2 linked regions of the Homo sapiens genome follow. The protein of the gene in region 2 interacts with the protein of the main gene of each other region in a pairwise test. Each region holds a gene or a part of one and is shown on either strand. Other genes may lie near its edges.

Region 1 (7,037 bases), on a different chromosome or scaffold from region 2:
TTTGAAAATAGAGTTGAGGCATTATCCATATTTGTCTTTAACAACTTAAATTTCTAGTTGAGTATTTTGAACATGGCTTCAGTAAATGTTACTACACAGAATTTACTATTGAACTGTAATATACTGGAGTTTTCTGTTCTATTTTTTTTTTTTTTTTTGGCAATGACATATACTTATTTGCTTAGATAGTGCAAAGTAATGTAAATTTTGGAATGCCATACCTGGACCAAGTTCATGAGAGTATCTCTGAAGTGTCCTGAGGTCTCTGAATAAATGTCCTCTTGGAGGTTATTGCTGTATTCTGTATAAGAAAACATGTTAAAGGTATGATTTATTATAGAACTATGTATCAGTGTGTTTTGAGTAAGTTAATGTTATTTCCCAGTTGTGAGTACAAAGTCCAGGAAATGTAGTCCACCTGTTGACATTTCTTTGTCAATAAACCGTCTGCCAAAGAATTCTGTCACCTAATGGTAACATAAGCACAGGACTATTTTTTAAAAATCTTTAGTCCAAAATTGAAAAACAGGATTGAGAGTCATTTCACATTCTCTGATTCTCAAAATTCAGAATTATGCATTCTATTTCCACAGAATGCTGCCCAGCCCAATACTTTTTCTAAGTGCTTCATCTCATTTTAACATTTTAGTGAAAGTTCTGACTTCATTCCCTTCAGAAAAGTCTTGTTTTTGTTTGAATGCAATAGAGATGACTGTCCGCAACATTTTCTTGACACACAATGTCATATACTACATAACGCAATAGAACTTAAGGCATTATACCTTTTTGAAAGTGAAAATAGTTACCCTTTCTACTTTTGAAATGTATAAAAATCTGATTTTGTAGTAGATTACGGGAATGTGAAATTTATGTAAAGCGAAGCAGATATATTTGTAGAATTCACTGAGCCATTATTGTACCTTATTTTTTCTATATGCTGGGTCTTTCCTGGGTAAGAGGTGAAATGCCCCCTGAATTAAAATGTGGGACACTTTCCTGTCTTAATGAAAACATTCACCTCATAGAGACTTGTAATTATTTTCCTGGAAAATTTGCTTAACTTGATTGTCTAGAGAATGGTTTCATTTTTAGTGCACTAATAATCGGTTTTACCTAATGAGTTAATTGGTCCTCAGTGAATCCTATGTTAAATGTAAGAATGTCTTAGATAATTCTTCAAAATACATAAACTGGAATATTTAATGTGTTATAAAGTTCTTATATGTGTAAAATATATTCACATATGTATATTTCCTTACGCAAGCAGTAGGCTTCTCGCATCTGGAAAATTTCTCCATTTGTTCTTGAAGCTAGTATTTCAATGAGGCAATTCTCATCAGTGCCTACTCCCTAGAGAAAGGAAAAAAGAGATAAATGTAAGGATATTTTTATTGGAAGTAATAGTGTACCTTTTGTACAAGAAAGGGATACAGCATTTCCAGTGTTTTGAGAGGTGGCAGGGAAAGGAAGTGGTTTAGGATGAAGGCAGGCACAATCTTAGTTTCAGCTTTGCCATTTACTACCTATTTGACCCTGAAGAATTAATATTATCTGAAGGAAACTGTTTCTTCATTTAGAATAAAACAGTATGAGCATTTCTAAACAATGTGGAGAAAGACATGTTCAAGCAATGCTCATGGCATTGAGCATTTCCATTTGCTGTTGGAATGATATTTGATATTCCATTTGCTGCTGGAATATTAATTCTTTAGCAAGCTGACATTAGAATACAGGTTTTCTAATTTGCCGAGAATATTTTAGGGACCTGTGCCTGCCTCTCTAGATGTGGAATTTTGTACAATTTGCATAAATATTTGGATGGATGCTTTCTGTGGTCTCTTGCAGACACATGGATATATTGGTCTGTGAAAGAGATCTTAAAGACAATACACCTTTTTTAGGAAAGCCTCAGAAATCCTTAGCATTCTATGAATTATTGATAAAACACACTTGTTTAATCAAAACAGCAACATATAAACATATAACTTTATTTTTTAAATAATTTTTAGACATAATTTTGCAAGAGGTAGGAATTGACATGTAACATGTGTTAAAAGCGATTAGTTAAAATTCATATAATTTTTGTACAATGCCTATTTGGATCAGTAAATGTGATGGCCAAAATCCATGTCCTTTAATTTTTTTCCTGTTGCCTCTTTTCTGTCACACATTGTTCACAGATTGTGGTAATCTGGTCATTGGCAAGCATCGTACTGGAATGATTTCAACAGTTCTGCAGGTGTTTAATATCTGCATTTGGAAAGAAGTAAAGCCAAGGCCCTCTTTGTTCCCTGTACCTAGCCAACAAAATCTGTAACAAATCCACAGTCAACTTATTTCATGGAAATGACTTTCCTGTAAGAAACACTGATTCTAATTCTTCCAAATTAAGATTTTTATACATTTGAGCAAAAAAAAAAATGTTTCTGTAAAGAATGAACTTCAGGTCATAAAAAGAAAATATAAAGACATCATCTATATATTGTCCCTGATTCAATATCTTCTTTTGACTTAATCAAATTTTTACAAATAATGTAACAAGATTCACATCATTTTTAATACATTATCCTCAATATAGGAATACATGCTCAGGGACAAATCTGAATAGCCCTGGAGGCTTGTTCACTTTTCCTTGTTGTAGGTCAGCACTGGGGCTGGCTCAGTAAGTTTGTGACTTTGTACAACAAAAGAACAGGCTGATCCCAGCCACTCAGCCCAGGAGGCTCCACCTTCCTAACAAGGCCACTGCCCTTGACCACAACATTTCCATTGTTACATCATTGTTTAGATATTCCCTCCCCTCTCCTTGATCATATAAGTATGTAGGAGCATCACAGGGCAGTTTCCCCTCTACTGAAATACTGGCCTGTACTTGTTACAGGCATATTTTTGGATCAGATCACTACCTTCATGGCATGCCAGAGCTCATGAGCATCATACAGTGGTGGTGGGTACATGAGGCCAGCCATCACATCTTTGAAGTGATCCGAAAGCTGCTCCCTCATATCCCCAATCAGGTCCTGTGGAGGAAAAAGTACATATATTTATTATATGTTACCAAATTTGCAAGAGAAATGAGATAATTGCAGAAAGTCTTTTAATATTTTCTTTTCCATGTCATTTAATAATAACAGCATAACAAGTCTGATTCACATGTATATGTATGCATTACATGAGATGATGAACTTGAAAATTGTTGATTTGATCTCACCCCTGCATGACATAGCATATGCACATTGTAGACATTTGAACATAGAATGATTTTCTTTTTCTGACCCTAAACTCCAACTCCTCTTTTGATCTCATTATGAAAATATGTAAAAGTTAAACTTAAAAACATTTAATTGGGGGTCTTTAGTTTTCTTGTGGAATTACTGAAACATTACTCCTTAAAGAAAATATGCACTTTATTTTATTTTATCATTGCAACAGTCTCTTTTAGCAGAAGTCCCTGGTTATACTATTGCCAAACAGCTTATGTAAATTAATTAAGTAGTCTTAGAACTTTCTTCAAATAACAAGCAATATTATTTTAAATATTGAAAGTCAAACACTTAAAGAGAAATACATGCATACTAAATGTGCTATGAAAACAGACATAAAAATATTTTGCATTTTATTTTACAAATGTAAAGTGGAATTAAAAATATATATATGCTCTTCCTATACAACAACAAACAGGCAAGCCAAGAGCCAAATCATGAATGACTTCCAATTCACAATTGCTACAAAAGGAATAAAATACCTAGGGATACAGCTAACAAGGGAATTGAAGGACCTCTTCAAGGAGAGCTACAAACCACTGCTCAAAGAAATCAGAGATGACACAAACACATGGAAGAACATTCCATGTTCATGGATAGGAAGAATCAATATCATGAAAATGGCCATATTGTTCAAAGTAATTTATAGATTCAATGCTATCCCCATTAAACTCCCATTAATGTTCTTCACAGAATTAGAAAAAAAACTATTTTAAAATTCATATGGAACCAAAAAAAGAGCCTGAATAGCCAAGTCAATCCTAAGCAAAAAGAACAAAGCTGGACGCATCACACTACCCAACTGCAAACTATAATACAAGGCTACAGTAATCAAAACAGCATGGTACTGGTACAAGAACAGACACACAGACCAATGGAACAGAATAGAAAACTCAGAAATAAGACCACATAGCTACAACCATCTGATCTTTGACAAACCTGACAAAAATAAGCAATGGGGAAAAGATTCTCTATTTAATAAATGGTGCTGGGAGAAGTGTCTAGTTATATGCAGAAAACTGAAACTGTATACCTTCCTTATGCCATATACAAAAATTAACTCAAGATGAATTAAAGACTTAAATGTAAAACCCAAAACTATAAAAAACCTAGAAGAAAATCTAGGCAATACCATTGAGGACATAGGCACAGGCAAATATTTCATGATGAAAACTCCAAAAGCAACTGCAACAAAAGCAAAAATTGACAAATGGAATCTAATTAAACTAAAGAGCCTCTGCACAGCAAAAGAAACTATCATCAGAGTGAACAGACAGCCTATAGAATGGGAGAAAGTTTTTGCAATCTATCCATGGGACAAAGGTCTAATAACCAGAGTGAGTCTAAGAAGAACTTAAGCAAATTTACAGGAAACAAACAACCCCATTAAAAAGTGGGAAAAATATGAACAGACACTTCTCAAAAGAAGACAGACGTGCAGCCAACAAACACATGGAAAGAAGCTTAACATCACTGATTATTAGAGAAATACAAATCAAAACCACAGTGAGATATTGTTTCACCCCAGTCAGAAGGGTGATTACTAAAAAGTCAAGAAACCACAGATGTTGGTGAGGTTGTGGACAAAAAGGAACATTTTTACACTCTGGGAGTGTAAATCAGTTCAACCGTTGTGGAAGACAGTGTGGTGATTCCTCAAAGACCTAGAGGCAGAAATACTATTTGACCCAGCAATCTCATTACTGGCTATATGCCCAAAGGAATAAAAACCATTATATTAATATTATAAAGATACATGCATGTGTATGTTCATCGCAGCACTATTCACAATAGCAAAGATACATAATCAGCCTAAATGCCCAATGATAGACTGGATAAAGAAAATGTGGTACATATATGCCATGGAATACTATGCAGCTATTAAAAAGGGATGAGATTATGTCCTTTTCAGGGACATGGATAGTTGGAAGCCATTATCCTCTGCAAAGTAACACAAGAACAGAAAATCAAACACTGTATGTTTCACTTACAAGTAGGAGCTGAATGATGAGAACACATGGACACATGGAGGAGAACAACACACACTGGGCCTGTTGGGGGCGGGGGCAAGCAGGGAGGGAGAACATCAGGAAGAATAGCTAATGGATAATGGGCTTAATATCTAGGTTATAGGTTGATAGGTGCAACAAACCACCATGGCACATGTTTACCTGTGAAATAAACCTGCATATTCTGCACACGTATCCCTGAACTTAAAATAACATTTGAGGGAAAAAATATATATATACTCAATTTATTTTCTGTAGGGTTACCAAGAAATCTGAACGGTGTTTAAAATGGTCTCTCACTAAACTGTGTAAAGCATATTCAGTTTTACTTAAAAACATGCAATACTTTGGTTCTGAGGTGGTTCAATACTGGAATTCAAGTAAAAGATTCCACATTGAAATAACTACAAAATAGTCCTAATTTTCATTTTATTATTTGGCATAATCCAACACCACCTTTCATACACTGTGGATTTTCTTTTTTAGTAGATAAAAGCATTATAACAAGAGAGAAAATACAAAATACCAATATTGGAAGTGTAAGAGTTATGTGTATGTATACTGTAGACACTAAGGGGTAAAAAGAGACTATTATAAACAAATTTCTGCCACTATATTTTAAAATTTAGTTGAAATGGACAAATTCCATGACAAATACAAATTACCAAAATAGGCTCAAGCATAAATAGAAAATTTAGATTTCCCAATGTTAATTAAAGAAATTGAATTTGTAGTTAATGCTCCCGCCTATCTCTAGACCCAGGTGGAATCACTAATGTAATCTATCAAGCCCTTATGGAAGGGGTAAAGTAAATCCTATACAAAATATTGAAGAAATTAGTGGATGATAGAAGATTTCTCAATTTACCTTATCTGGCCAGTATTGCTGTAATACAAAAATTAAAATAAAAACTTCATAAGAAAATTGCACACTGATATCCCTTATAAACCTAGACACAAACATGTGTATTCAAATATTTATAAAGCACATCTAGTAACACAGAAAAAGAATGACACCTAACGAGCAAGTAGGGTTTATCCCAGGAATGCAAGGTTGGTTTGCATTTGAAAATTAATCAATGTAAATTTCCATTTTAGCAGTATAAGGAGGAAAGCTATATGATGATATCAATAGAAGTAGCGTGTTAGTCCACTTTGTGTTGCCATAAAGAAAAACCTGTGGCTGGGTAATTTACAAAGAGGTTTAATTGTCTCATGGTTCTGCAAGCTGTACAAGAAGCATGGCACCAGTATCTGCTTCTCATGAGGCTTCAAGAAGCTTACAATCATGGCAGAAGGCAAAGGGGGAGCAAGAGCTGGAGGGAGGAGCTGCCAGGCTCTTTAAGGGGAACATATTACTCATGGAAAGAGCTCTTCATGAGGAATCCGCTCCCACGACCCAAACACCTATCTTCAGGCCCACCTCCAGCACTGGAGATCACATTTCAACATGACATTTGGAGAGGACACATATCTAAACCAACTAATGTAGCAAAAGCATTTGAGAATATTTAGCACATAATCATAATAAAAAAATTCTTAGCAAAGAAAGAAGGAATCTTTCTCAAACTGATAGAGGGCATTTACAAAATTTCTACAGGGAAGAGGATACCAGTGAAAAACTAAATGCTTATCCTCTAAGATTGAGAACAAGGCAAGGATGTCTGCTCTTACTGATATATTCTATTTCAATTTGTACTAGAGCTATATACTTAAAAAGAAAAGCCAAAACTAAATCTTCTAGAAGAAAGTACCAGAACAAATC
Region 2 (7,037 bases):
AAAAAAAAATTAAAAAAAGAATCTTATGAGTGTTGAATAAAGATTCTTCTCTGAAGCCTTACCACTTTACTAAGCAGTATTCTTTGGGGAGTTCTCACCACTGAACACAGAGTGCTCACACACATCTAGTGTTTTATATTTAAACTTAACACATGCACGTAGAATCAGTCTTCAAAGAATTTCAAATTACAAGTCTGGATCCAGAAAGACCCTGGCCAATCCAGAGTGTGATCACTGGACACCATTATTTAGCAGGGCAGGCCCAAGCTAGAGAAATGTCTGATGATCCGTGACTGCGGGAGACAGAAGCCCTGCCAAAGAACCTGAAAGGAATTTCCAGAGAGAAAAAATTGGGGTTAAACAAAGAGCTAAATTTAGTTGCTTCCTGAATGTGTTTTCCCAATCAATAGACCTAAAACAACACTGTTCCCCATCACAACACACACAGCTGGCAAAGAGTACTGCCAAGAGGAGTATGAGCAATTAGTGAATAATAGCTTATGTACTGTTGGTTGACACCACTTAGCATGAAGTCAATATATAGGGCACCAGCAGCAAGCTGTCAGAATCCTAAATCCCAAGCCATCACCAAATGGGTAATAAATATGTTGTTCTTTTGCTACCATGGGGATTAGTACAAAAGTACTTGGTATTCTAGGACATGAATGCCACAAGGCCAGACTGCGGGAGCTCTCCAAGTTACTTCTGTAAACTGCTGGTCCATTCCTGAGAGACTGCAGTACTAAAGAAAAGACTACAGAGATGTCCCTCAACTTACAATGAGTGTTATCCCAATAAACCCATCATAAATTGAAAATATCTAAGTTGAAAATGCATTTAATACACCTAACCTACCAAACAAACATCATAGTTCAGCCTAGCCTACCTTAAACCTGCTCAGAACACTTACACTAGCCTACAGTTGGGCAAAATCATCTGGCAAAACAGTACACTGTAGAATACTGGTTGTTTACTCTCATGACTGCACGGCTGACTGCTTTGACTCCTGCTGCTGCCCAGCATTAGAGAATATCATACCTGCATATCGCTAGCTCAGGAAAAGATCTAAATTAATAATTTCAACTACAGTTTCTACTGACTATTGCTTTCACATCATCCTAGAATCAAAAAATGATAAGTCTAACCATTGTAAGTTGGAGGATCATCTGTAGTCTATTTGCCATTAAACTGCCCTTCTCTTCTTATATTTTTCCTTTTTTTTTTTTTTGAGACAGAGTCTCGCTCTGTCACCCAGGCTGGAGTGCAGTGCTGCGATCTCCGCTCACTGCAAGCTCCGCCTCCCAGGTTCACGCCATTCTCCCGCCTCAGCCTCCCAAGTAGCTGGGACTACAGGCGCCCACCACCATGCCCGGCTCATTTTTTTGTATTTTTAGTAGAGACGGGGTTTCACCGTGTTAGCCAGGATGGTCTCCATCTCCTGACCTCGTGATCCACACGCCTCAGCCCCCCAAAGTGCTGGGATTACAGGCATGAGCCACTGCGCCTGGCCTTTTCCTCATTTTTATTCACATTTAGAAGAGAAAAGGAGATGTGATGGGTAAGGTTTTTGTGTTTTTTTTTTGAGACAGGGTCTGACTCTGTCACCCAGGCTGGAGTACAGTGGCATGACTTTGGCTCATTGCAGCCGCAACCTCATGGGCTCAGACGCTCCTACTTCAGCCTCCTGAGTAGCTGGGACTACAGGCACATGCCACCGTGCCCAGCTAATGTTTTCTATTGTTTGTAGAGACAGGGTCTCACTTTGTTGCCCAGGCTGGTCTTGAACTCCTGAGTTCAAGCAATCCTCCCACCTTGGCCTCCCGAAGTGCTGGGATTACAGGCATGAGTCACTGCACCTGGCCAATGGAAAACCCTTTACCAGCTGGGCGTGGTGGCTGACGCCTGTAATCCCAGCACTTTGGGAGGCCAAGGCAGGCAGATCACTTGAGGCCAGGAGTTTGAGACCAGCCTGGCCAACACGGTGAAACCTCGTCTCTACTAAACATACAAAAATTAGCCAGGCATGGTGGCAGGTGCCTGTAATCCCAGCTACTCAGGAGGCTGAGGCAGGAGAATCGCTTGAACCTGGGAGGTAGAGGTTGCGGTGCGCTGAGAGCTGAGATCACGCCACTGCACTGCAGCCTGGATGACAAAACAAGACTCTGTCTCCAAAAAAAAAAAAAAAACCTTTACCTCTCTGGGCCTCATGTCCTCATCTGTAAAATGAAAAAATCATACTAGGTGATCAACTAACCTAACACTAACATTTTATGCTTTTAGACTGTTTCCCTATATATTCTAGTTTGCCTTTTTTGATCCAAACATTTGGATAGCAGATCCAATGGAGAAAGTGTCCCCAGCTCTGCACTGACTGCCCCTCAGTGAAAACCTGCTTGAGGATTGTGCCTTGGAACTCGAACACAGAGAAAACCCCCCTGTAGAAGAAGTTGCTCAGTAAGATAACTGCCTGCTTGCTCTATTTCCAGCACAGACGCTGCTTGGCAAAAGGGCTTCCTTTCCACTCCTTGTCACTGTTAAGAACAAAGAGAAAAACCAGATGGCATGAAGCTGCTGGGCTTCTTTCCCCCTCATTGTCATGAACCAGTGGAGTGCAACTGGTCACTACATACCACAAGACGCCACACCCAAGTTTCTGGCTAAGGACCAGCACATGTGGTTTGTGGTATGTTTATTGATAGGAAAATAATTTTATATGACAGAACTTTTCACTTCAGTCATTAAAAACAAAAGAAGTGTGAAGATCAAGTTGGGGAGCCAGAGTGTGTAGCAGAAAAAAATTTCTACCTCTGCTTTTGTCCATGTTAGTAAATATTTTCTCATGCTCTGTTAGTTCTGAGAATTCTCCCTGATTCTCACTGTTATTCTCACTCTTAGCCACTTGACTCCAGGGCAGATCATAATCTTCCCAAGTTAAAAAAATCCTGCAGTGTAGGGCTGGGCGCGGTGGCTCACACCTGTAATCCCAGCGCTTTGGGAGGCCAAAGCAGGTGGATCACGAGGTCAGGAGTTCAAGACCAGCCTGGCCAACATAGTGAAACCCCATCTCTACTAAAAATACAAAAAAATTAGCCAGGCATGGTGGTGTGTACCTGTAGTCCCAGCTACTCAGGAGGCTGAGGCAGGAGAATCGCTTGAACCCAGGAGGTGGAGGTTGGCAGTGAGCAGAGATTGCGCCATTGCACTCCAGCTTGGGCAACAGAGTGAGACTTCGTCTCAAAAAAAAAAAAAAAAAATCCTGCAGTGTAAATAGTTCCAGGGAAATCACACGCTGCATAAACCAACAGCCTCAGCAGCAGCACTTGGACTACAGATATAGAGAGCTAGCAGCAGGAGCAGCTTCTTTTACAAAGAGGGCAGTAAAAAAGGAAGCAGTCAGAGGTAGATAGTTGGCTGATCTGGAGGAGTACCAGACTTAACAGATGATAACTGCCTTTGAAAGGCTTAAAACCTAGCAATTTAAATTAAACCCGATTCTGAGCTAGGCTGTTTGCCTTTACACAGGTGTTAAAAATCGAAGGACTTCGGCAAGTTACAGTGTCACTGTCACTGCCACTTAAGGAAACCACCTTAATAAACAGGCATGCCTACCAGAATCTGCCAGCAAAAGACTGACACAGTTCAGCAGCTTGTTTTTTTTTTAGCAGTCTTTCTTAGCCTGACAGTTGGCCTATTTTTTTTTTTCACATGGAAAGCACATGCAAGCTACTATACTCAGCGAAACCAAATACAACAGAGTCCTACTATTATCTATAAAAAAAAAGCCATGTCTGGCTTTCCTCCAAATGCAATTAGCTGCGTCCACAGTTCTCCTTATAGCAGCTACCAGCATTCAAGATTTATATTCCTTATATTCCAAACTTCAAACCAAAATAAAAATATTATACTCAATTCCTTCTCTACTTACTAAAATGATTATGACTTCCCCTTTAGCTCTTAGGATCATTCAATAACAATGGTTTTCAAACCATATTCCAAGAGGCCCAGTTAGTAATGTGGTTTGAGGGGAAGGGATGGGACACGGATGTGATGAATTACCTCTCTCACACTGCTTTAATCTGTTTTATATGCCATAGGTTTGAAGAAAAGGTTCTAATGCTAAAAAAAGAAACAATAATCACTGAGGTAATAGAACTAGATTATCATCTACAATGACCTACATAAGGCACTACACTGTTACATGAAATTAGCCAACTTTCAATGTCCTGGGCTAACAGGAGATAAGAACAGCATAGTAAAGAAATGTAATTTATTAAAACTCTATTTTTAGCCAATGATTCCAATCATCCATCTTCAACTGTTTTTTTGCAACAACAAATAATTAGTAAAACAGAGTTGAAGTCTGGTGAAATGTATGGGCAGTAATAGAGAAGCCAAAGTGAAAATAGATCTGAATATTTGAATCTACATAGCAGGCCCTTTGCCTTTAGTTGTTACTCACAGCATACTAAATAAGTGGCAGGCCATATCCTACCAGATACAGGATATACACAGACATCTACAGAAATTACCCCTCCACCATGGCAGAATGCTGTTATTGGCTGCAATCCCCAAGAGACAATAATACCGGGCCAGCCACCAAGCCACTTAAATTAATTCCTAGTGTGAGATTCTGACTCAGAAGCCAGGTCTTTCTGTTTCAAGCATAATAGAAAGGCAACAGCAACCAGCAGGATGTGGGACCTGATGCAACTCACCCGTGCAGAACTCCTTGCTCACGTTGTGGGGCACTATGATCCGTCGATAGACAATGGGCTCGGACTCCAAGATGTTCTCATCATGGCGGTACCGAGTGGGCCTTTCATTTGGGATGCCCCGGGAACGGGTACCACTTCTCCTTTCATAGGTATCAATCTCCTCAAACACAGCTGCCTTGTCAAAAAGAGCCAGGTTCCCTTCAAAATCAAAATCTGTGTCTGGGATCTCCTCAATATCATCCCCGAAGCACTCGTCATCTTTATTCTTCATCTGGCCATTCTTTAAACCACTTTTCTTGGGAGTTGCCTGATTTGGGTGCCTGCTACTAGATGACCCTGGAGAAAAAATAGGGACTAAAGTCAGTGTATCCACAGAAAGCGCTCAGTGAACGTGGAAAATACATTAGTCTTTTGTGGAGAGTGTTACAGGAACCAATGTGAAAATGGTAAAGGTAACTATTGCAAACTCATATTAAGTAGCACAAACAACAAATCTCATGTGCAATAATAGGTTTCAAACATCACCCAATCTGGGCACAGTGGCTCACGCCTATAATCCCACATTGGGAGGCTGAGGCAGGAGGATCGCTTGTGCCTAGGAGTTCAAGGCTGCAGTGAGTGATGATCACGACACTGCACCCCAGCCTGGGCAAAGAGCAAGAATCTGTCTCAAAACACACACACACACACACACACACACACACACACAAACAACAACAAATATTACCCAAGTAACTTGTTAATGAATATGAAATAAGCAGTACTCCTGGAAATCTTAACCAGTTATCCCCTTCATAAGGAAACTGGTAATGACAAAAGTTTTTCTGACAACTTACTATTAGCAAACAAGAGGAAGAGTAAGAATATAGCATGGTGGTTTTGACATAATGACAGAGGCAGGAGGCAGAGAAATTCTAGAGGCGGGTCCCTGGCGAAGCCCCACCTTTGAAGCTGAAAAGGCTGAGACTGTGGCCCAAAGTGAGAACTTATATCCCTGTTTTCCCACTAGAATGTTGTCTTTTCTTAAACCACCCATGGCTCTGCCCCCACCCTATCCTGTGCCTATAAAGACCCCAGACTCAGTCAGCAGAGATGAGAAACAGCTGGATGTTGGAGACTATGGCTGGATGTCAGAGAGAAGTGGCTTGACTTCAGAGGGATAGCTTGACTGTGTAACTATGGAGAAGAATTTGGCTGGAGACAGCCAGACTTAAGGGGAAAATTACCTACCCACCACTGACTGTCCCCTTTTCAGCTCCCCTTCCCACATAAATAAAAATAAAATCACCCACATTTACCATCCTTTAATTCATTCATGTGACCTCATTTTTCCTGGACACTGGACAAAAGCTCAGAAGCCATGAGTGCAGATACAAAAGACTGTCACACTGATCCTTTGCCCTCACTGGCAGAGGGCAGCTGCAGGCCCACTGAGCTGTTAACACTTAAGCCATCTGTGGATGGCAGAGCTAAAAGAGCACCATAACACATCCTCTGGGGCTTCAGGAGTTGTAGACACCCCACCTAGATGCTGCCATATGGCCTGCACAGAGTTCGCTCCTGCTGGTGCCCAGAAGCGCTCATTCTGGCTCCTGCACCGGCTCACATGTGCACTCCCTCCCACAATGGGTAGAACACAGTGGGTCTGAGTGAGTGGAGTTTGATCCCACTGGCACTGAAACAGACAGCCAGGTTCCAGTGCTTGTGCACTCCAGTTCCTGCCTTGTTCTCTCGCACACTCCCTTCTGCAAGGAGTTGAGAGCAGTGCGTGGAGTAAACGGGGCACCCCTGTCATGAGTCCTGTGAATAGGTCAGGGAAGGGAAATATCCTGCTTCAGTTTGAGTCTGAGTGTCTGGCAGTTGTTTAAGAGAGAAATACCCCCAGAGTAAAAGAAGGCCTGGTCTTATAGCCTGAAGCTTGTAGGAAAATACTATTCAGCTAGTCCTTAAATCTATGCTTACCCAGCAAGCAATCTTCTGATTTTTAATTTGGTCTTAGGCTAGATCCCAGCAGCAGGGAATCCCTGGTTTGCTCAAAAAATTCTACATTCTGAGCCAGGTATACACCTACCACTACAAATTGCTATTCTGACTTACAAACCTTTCTTTAGACCTTTCGGTTAACGTGATCTCTTTTCTCAGAATTTTATCTCTTGTGGGTAAGCAGTTTCTGAAACACCAAATAATGACAGGGTCCATACTGAACTGATCCTGTAGAGGCCACACTAATGCACATCCACAACAGAGTAGCCAGCCACACCCTGTCTCTGACACCTTATTTGGCTACTACACATCAGTCAACAACTACTCTAGCAGCCAAGG

What was found. Proteins that work in one complex are often made in the same cells at the same time.
Region 1: the proteins of EDC3 (region 2) and ANXA10 interact in binary tests that used the Homo sapiens proteins (3 or more experiments, as listed by UniProt).

Annotation. Positions count from the first base shown.
Region 1 is NC_000004.12:168,158,511-168,165,547, reverse strand, and holds part of ANXA10 (annexin A10), read right to left. Parts: intron 5,315-7,037; coding exon of another isoform or gene 5,255-5,314; intron 3,021-5,254; coding exon 2,907-3,020; intron 1,351-2,906; coding exon 1,260-1,350; intron 302-1,259; coding exon 222-301; intron 1-221.
Region 2 is NC_000015.10:74,651,018-74,658,054, forward strand, and holds part of EDC3 (enhancer of mRNA-decapping protein 3), read right to left. Parts: intron 5,052-7,037; coding exon 4,716-5,051; intron 1-4,715. UniProt on the Homo sapiens protein: Binds single-stranded RNA. Involved in the process of mRNA degradation and in the positive regulation of mRNA decapping. May play a role in spermiogenesis and oogenesis.